Homo sapiens: one gene and its partner. The protein of the gene in region 1 purifies or fractionates together with the protein of each later gene. This does not show direct contact. Each region holds a gene or a part of one and is shown on either strand. Other genes may lie near its edges. The genes, in order: INTS9 and WDR73.

Evidence for each region.
Region 2: the proteins of INTS9 (region 1) and WDR73 purify together in Homo sapiens (affinity purification with mass spectrometry; one large-scale study listed by BioGRID and IntAct). This does not show direct contact.

What each region holds. Positions count from the first base shown.
Region 1 is NC_000008.11:28,778,450-28,782,260, reverse strand, and holds part of INTS9 (integrator complex subunit 9), read left to right. Parts: intron 1-1,266; coding exon 1,267-1,438; intron 1,439-3,811. UniProt on the Homo sapiens protein: Component of the integrator complex, a multiprotein complex that terminates RNA polymerase II (Pol II) transcription in the promoter-proximal region of genes.
Region 2 is NC_000015.10:84,644,269-84,648,079, forward strand, and holds part of WDR73 (integrator complex assembly factor WDR73), read right to left. Parts: intron 3,687-3,811; coding exon 3,622-3,686; intron 2,081-3,621; coding exon 1,916-2,080; intron 1,818-1,915; exon of another isoform or gene 1,705-1,817; intron 1,569-1,704; coding exon 1,203-1,568; intron 1-1,202. UniProt on the Homo sapiens protein: Component of a multiprotein complex required for the assembly of the RNA endonuclease module of the integrator complex. Associates with INTS9 and INTS11 in the cytoplasm, stabilizing the INTS9-INTS11 heterodimer and blocking the active site of INTS11.

The DNA of each region.
Region 1 (3,811 bases):
CTGGTGTGGAGTGTCAGGCAGCTTATAAAGGAAGAGTCCAGCTAAAGCAGGCCATAACAATCTGAATATGTTTCCAGGAAGTATGTCAGTATTACCAGAAAGACTTGACTTGCCCATGTGTTCCACAAATCACATTCTGGGTAAAAACTATTTTAATAAGATTCACTTGTATTTTTTTAAATTAATAAGTGTTACTTTTCACAGCAGTTTTAGGTTCACGGCAATCATATGCCCCTGCCCCACACACGCAGTTGCCCACTGCACCATCCCACACCAGAGAGGTGCGTTTGCTACGGCTGATGAACCCACATTGACACGTCACTCTCGCCCAAAGCCCAGAGTTTACAGTAGGGGTTCCCTTGGCGTTGTGCTTTCTATGGTTTTGAACAAATGAACAGTGACCTGGATCCACCATTACATCATCACACAGAGGAGCTTCCTCACTCTGCAGATCCTCTGTGCTCAGCCTGTTCATTTCACTCTCCACGAATCCCTGGTGACCGCTGAGCCTTTTACTATCTGTATAGTTTTGCCTTTTCCAGAACGTCATACAGTTGGAATCATAGGGGCCTTGGCTTTTCAGAGTGGCGCCCTTCACTTAGGAATAGGTTCCTTCATGTCTTTTCGTAGCTTGGCAGCTCATTTCTTTTTTAGGGCTGAATAATATTCCATTGTCTGGATGCATCAGTTTCATCCTTCACCTGCTGAAGGACACATCTTGGTTGTTTCCACGTTTTAGCAATTAGGACATTCATGTGCAGGTTTCTTGTGGACATGATTTTTCAAAATATCTTTCAAAGTGGCTGTATCCTTTTGCATTCCCACCAGCAGTGAATGAGAGTCCTTGTTCTTCCATATCCTTGTCAGCATTTGGTGCTGTGAGTGTTCTGGATTTTGGCCATTTTATTATAACAGGTGTATAGTGGTATCTCATCATTTTAATTTGCAGTTTCCTAATGACATACGGTGTGGAGCATTTTTTCGTATGCTCATTTGCCATCTCTCTTCTCTGATGAGGTGTCTGTTCAGGTTTTTTGCCCACTTTTTAATAGGGCTGTTCATTTCTTTTTGCTGAGGTTTCGGAGTTCATAGATTCTGGGTCACAGTCCTCTCTCAGGTGTGACTTTTGCAGGTATTTTCTCCCAATCCGTGGCTTGTCTTCTTTGTTGGTATTTTAGATCCAGTCCCGCTCACCCTCCCGTACTTTGGTTCCCCCTTCAGCCTGGGCAGGCTCACATTTCTTTGTATTTTTTCTATATTTTCCAGCTCATTCAGACCAATAAGCTGAAGCACTACCCCAGCATCCACGGAGACTTCAGCAACGACTTTAGACAGCCCTGTGTGGTGTTCACCGGGCACCCTTCCCTCCGCTTCGGGGACGTGGTCCACTTCATGGAGCTCTGGGGAAAATCTAGTCTCAATACCGTCATATTCACGGGTAAGTGAAAAAAATAAAGAAACAAATTGGTTCTCTCCACTGAGGCCATGAGTGAATGCACCTACAAGGTAGAGACCCAGGGAAGGATTTTGCAGTGAGACATAAATACAAACATTGTTCTACTGTAGGTACCAAAGAATGAAGAAACCGCAGAGAAAGAGTGAAGCAGTGTGTGCCATTGGACAGCTGGGCATCCAGCGAGGCCTTCATGCCTGTGTTTTCAGATTTCTCCAAGACAGAATCCTGCTGAGTGCTTTTGCTAGGATATCGTAAGCCATTTCAAGAAGTGCAGTGATTCAGTAACGGTGTTGTTTTACCTGTTAGGAATTGTTTACAGAGGTAGATCTTTTTCTTCTGATTGTGGTTTACTCTAACTGTGGATTTTCTTCTGGAGACAAATCCCTCAGGGGAAAAAATTCCTTTGATAAGGTCAAGTAGAGTGTTTACATAGATAATGACTGTATCATTTTATCAGTGTAGCGTGCCCAGCCCTTTGAATGCTAGGTCTTTTTTGCTTATCTGTGATAGGGGATATCTTGGAAATTATGCACAGACCTTTTTTTTTTTTTTTTTTTTTTTTTTTTTTTTTTTTTTTAGCTCATCAGTCATCATTAGTGTTAGTGTATTTTATGTGGGGCACGAGATAGTTCTTCTTCCAGTGTGGCCCAAAGAAGCCAAAAGCTTGGACACCCATGGGTTAGGGTCTTCAGTCGGCCTTGGGTTTTAGAAATCTTACAGGCTATGAAGAAAAAAGAAAAAAAAAAAAAAACCTTGATTTGAAATCTGGCCCAGCTTGCAGCAACCTCAGCCAATTCACCAGCAAGCATGACTGTCCCCACAGTAAATGGGACTGTCAGTAGCTACCTCTGTGGGTCACTCTGGGCACCAGGCACAGAACCCGGCACATGGCGGCTGTTGGGAAAGCACTGTCACCAGCTCCCTTCCTAGCTTTAGGAGCTGGGAATCCAGTTACACCAGAAGCACTGGGGTGACGCTTCAGCCCTTCCCCCAGCTTTCATTTGTGACCTAGAGGCCACCAGGAACACGCCTGTGGTCAAACCAAGTTGGGTTTATTGCCTCATTTCAGCAAGGGGAACACACACCATGGGTAAAAGAAAAGCAAAAAGACCTTGCAGGACTCCGGCTGGTGTTCGGTGATGCGCAGGTGTTCGCGGAGGTGAGGCGTCACCCTGTATTGGGTGGCGTCAGGATGCAGGGTCATTCTGCGATGGGTTTCTTAACTCATTCTTATCTAGAACACAGGAAGAATGGAGCCGGCATAGCGGGAAGTTTGCTTATGCTGTGGTCAGGAAAGTTCTGTGTTCCGTGTTCAGGATGATTACAGAGGGGTCTTGTCTTTGGCCGGATCCATCATTGTCAGACAAGGTGTTGGTGTTCCAGGAAGTTGCGTTCACACAGCAGGAGGACACATGGCTTTGCTGTGGGTGCCAGGCCGGCTCTTGCTGATACCAGGCCAGGCAGAAAGTGCCAGGAGAGGCCCCGGTCACCAGGACTGCTTTCCTCTTCTCAGGCCTGCTTTGGGCTAAAGGTGGAGGAAGTTGGGCCACAAGATATTGATTGACAACACCCAGAACTTCATAGCTGCCAAGATTTCATTAATTAGGAGGTTGTCCAGAGAATGTCCTATGTAGTGGGGCTGAGGTTGGTGTCTCCTGCTCCTGCTGCTGAGTGGTGACTCGACATTTGACATGACAGTGGTGACAGCATCTACACAGCACAGTAGATAACCTGGCCTTTAGTACAAATGTTTCTTCAGCTAAAAGGAAATCAGGACTGTGTGATTTCCTGTGACAACTCTGGGTAATGGGTTTGCATTTAAACTGGTTTATGGGGCTTCCAGGGCAGAAGTTGTGTCTGGGAGAGGTTGGGGCCATCTTTTTTTATTGTTTTGTGACTCCTGGATACATGAAAAGGGGGTCAGTATTCTCAGAGAAGCACAATCCACTGGAATGGGCATTTATGTACCTGGCAGCTCTGCCAGTTTGTCCTGACAACAGTGGAGACGTCTCTGTGTCTGGTGTGCCTAAGCCAGGGTCCCTCGTCGCTGGGCACAGACTGTGCTGGGAATCAAAGTGTCACATCAGTTAGGACCGAGCGAGGTCTTTTGGCTCAAGGCAGGCAGCTCCCTCGAGTTGGGGGAATGTTCCCTGCCAAGCAGGCTGCAGCAGCCCTCAGGAGACAGGCTGAGCAGAGGGCGAGGACTCTTCCCGGTCTGAGGGGCTGGGGCTGCTGGGGAGCATCCCAGTCTCAGTCTACAGACCATTCACGGGCCTGGAGGCGGGGCCGTGCGCTTGTCTTCCGGGTGCATCTCACACCTGGGCGTTAACTCAGAGCTGATTCTAGGTTCCCGGG
Region 2 (3,811 bases), on another chromosome or scaffold:
AAACAGAAGCCTTTGGAGAGAAATACCTTCACGTCCCTGCACGATCTAGCTGCACACACACTCATTCCATCCTGCCATCTTCCTGGTACTGAAGAGCCAGCCCCTCTACCTGAGCTTGGCTCTTCTGTTCTTTCTGGATCCTGGCATTTCCAATCATCCTTTCTTGCTCTCTTAATGATTTTTTTCAACCCCCACCTGCCTCGACGGATCCTTCCTGTTGGCTTTTAGATACCCACATTAAGTGCCGCAAGCAACTAGCTACCACCAGACCAGAACCAGGGGCCTGCTGACCTAGCTGGCTTGCTACTTTTTTTTTTTTTTTTTTTTTTGAGACAGAGTCTTGCTCTGTCGCCAGTCTGGAGTGCAGTGGCGTCATCTCAGCTCACTGCAACCTCTGACTCCCGGGTTCAAGCGATTCCCCTGCCTCAGCCTCCCAAGTAGGTGGGACTACAGGCGTGCACCAAAACACCCGGCTAATTTTTTTTATTTTCATAGAGACGGGGTTTCACCATGTTGGCCACGATGGTCTCGATCTCCTGACCTTGTGATCCACCCGCCTCGACCTCCCAAAGTGCTGGGATTATAGGTGTGAGCCACCGCACCCGGCCAACTTGCTACATTTCAAAAGGCAAGTAGGCTGAGAAGTACCCTTGAGGTGCTGTCCCTGCTGCTTTTTTTTTTTTTTTCTTTTTTTTTCTTTTTGAGACAGTCTCGCTCTGTTGCCCAGGCTGGAGTGCAGTGGTGCAATCTCAGCTCACTGCAAGCTCCGCCTCCCAGGTTCACGCCATTCTTCTGCCTCAGCCTCCTAAGTAGCTGGGACTACAGGCGCCTGCCACCATGCCTGGCTAATTTTTTGTATTTTTAGTAGGGACGGGGTTTCACCGTGTTAGCCACTGTCCCCTTTTCTTTCTGACCCAGCCCGATGTCTGTCCCAGTGTCTTACTGTCTGCAGGCCCCTCCACCAACCTGAGACCTGAATTCCTGCTAGGCTAGGAAAGGCCTGCTGCCAATGTGTGGAAGTTTAGTAGCCAGGGTAGGAAAAGGCCTGCCACTGAAGAACCTGGAGAGTTCGAATTTCTCTGTGAGCAACTTTAACTCCTGGAGCCAGGTTTATCATGGTGCTGGAGGCTCCTTCCTGAGCACCCAACAGTCTCCTGGAAGAAAGAGATCAGATAACAAGACGAAATCCTGCTCGGCAGTACCTGAGATGGCCAAGCAATTCTTCAGGCCTGGGGCCCAAGTCACTCGCAGCAGCTCTGGGTCAGGGCTAGGTACGGATACTGGGCACTGGACTGAGCTCACAGGATGGCAGAGATCCCGGGGGTCAAGAAGACAAAGACGCCCATCTGAGCCAAGGCTGGCAATGCTGGGCCCAGGGCCCTGGCCCCAGCTCCCAACTTCAGCACACCATCTCTCTCCACCAGACCCAGGGCCAGGGCTGCGATTCTCCAACGGTGCCCACTTCTGCCGGGTGTCAACAAGCCCCAGCCGGCCTGAAGCACAGCAGAAGGCAAAGGTGTCTGCATCTAGGACCTGCAGGCTACTCAGCTCCTCACTGTCACTGACATCTGGAAGACCGACAGCAAAGGAGACAAGCGGCTGGAGGCAGATGGGTCTGGCAATTTGGCAGGGCTGGCTGGTCACAGGTCCCTTCCCACCAGTCCCAGGCAGAATAAATCACATCTCCCTTCCCACTCATCTCACCATTGTCTGCTCAGCTGGTTGGGTGCTGGTCCCTGGGACTGCCTAATCCTGCCCCAGCATAGGAGCCCTTAGAGGCCAGGGCTTACCTCTTATTCACTGTGTATCCCCAACACCTGGCACAGAGAGTTGAACTCAGTTTTTATAGTGGCTGAGTTGGGCTGGGGGGTGATGCCGGCTGGAGCAGCAAGCAAGGGACAAAGTACCACGGTACCTGAGGTGTACGTGGTCTTCCGGGACTCCAGATCAACGACCTGCAGACTTCGGAGCCTCGCCCCATGGAGGACTCCGGGTGCCAATGTGGAGAAGACGGCCACCCTAGGCCAGAGACTCTCCTCTTTCTCATGCACAGCAATGGTGCTGACAGCTTTAATGACATCTAGGGGAAAACGAAGAGGCCAAAATCCAGAACTTTAATGAAGGTTTGAAACATGACAGGCTGCCAGCTGTCTTCCCCTGTACATTTAGAAGATCAAGGAAGAAAAGGAGCTGCCGGCTGGCAAGAGATGATGTTGAGACATAACTACTCTGGCTTATGTTTACATTTTTGAAACCATCAGAAACATTTCAATTTCTTTATTATTTGTCTTATAAACTGTTTTTTGCAAATGGAAGACAATGCCATCTCAAAACCCAAAAAGCAATTCTGGCTTTTTATACTTTTGTGGAGAACAGGTAGAAGACAAGAAAAGGAATGAACATGCTGCTGATGTCACTTACCCCTTCAGCGACAAGAAACAGGTACAGAATTCATGAACTGATATTATTTCTTCAAAAACATGTTCCATGACCTCGAGTGACTTGCTAAAGCCTAGCAAGTACAGGTCACATTACAGATGTCATTGTCTTGTAAGGTGGACAAGAAAGTCCACATCTTTTTTACACTGAATGGAACATCCTTGGCTTTGAGTCAAGTTTTGTTTTGGTTCTTTTGTTTTTTTGAGACAGAGTCTCACTCTGTTGCCCAGGCTGGAGTCCAGTGGCACAATCTCAGCTCACTGCAGCCTCCGCCTCTCAGGTTCAAGAAATTCTTCTGCCTCAGCCTCCTGAGTAGCTGGAATTACAGATGTGCACCCTCATGCCCAGCTAATTTTTTTGTATTTTTAGTAGAGACGGGGTTTCGCCATGTTGCTCGGGCTGGGCTCAAACTCCTGGTCAGGTGACCCACCTACCTTGGCCTCCCAAAGTGCTGGGATTACAGGCATGAGCCACTGCGCCCAGCCAAGTTTTAGTTTTTATTTGGTTGTCTCCACCTGCTTGGTTAGCAGGGAGGTTCTCCTCTCTGTATTCTACATCTGAGGCTTCTCTTAATATATGCTTAATGCTGCCAAAGAGGTGAGCTCACCTGAGCAGCCTAAGCTCTGCTGTTGCCACTGCCCCTGCCTAGGGAGAGTAGTTCTCTGGATGAACTCAATTCCAGGAGCAGGTTACAGGAAGCTCCATTTGGGGCTTGGATGCCATGCTATGGTTGCTAATTCACCTTGTCTGCATTAAAGTAGATTAATTCCCACCTGGCTCTGAGTCTACTACTACTTTTTTTTTTGGAGACGGAGTTTTGCTCTTGTTGCCCAGGCTGGAGTGCAGTGGCATGATCTCGGCTCACTGTAACCTCCGCCTCCCAGGTTCAAGCAATTCTCCTGCCTCAGTCTCCCCAGTAGCAGGGATTACAGGTGCCTACCACCATGCCCGGCTAATTTTTTGTATTTTTAATAGAGACAGGTTTCACCATGTTGTACAAGGTGGTCTTCAACTCCTGAATTCAAGTGATCCACCCAGCTCAGCCTCCCAAAGTGCTACAATTACAGGCATGAGACTGTCCCCAGCCTGAGTCTCCTTCTTAACTGGCTCAGATTAGGGGACAGGGGTGTATGAGTCACACTTTCCTAGAACCCCAAACCCCATCAAGTCAAATTCACTCACCACTGTCCTCTGCAACCTGCCACACCTGCAGATAACAACCTGGAAGGCCACTGGTAACCAGCAATCTATTCAGAAAAGACAAAATCAGTCCAGACCATGGGGAGCTTATCCACACAGGTCCCTTCCCCTTTCCAGCACACTTAGCTTGGGACTCCACTTCCCATATCAGGACATCTTACTGCAAGATCAT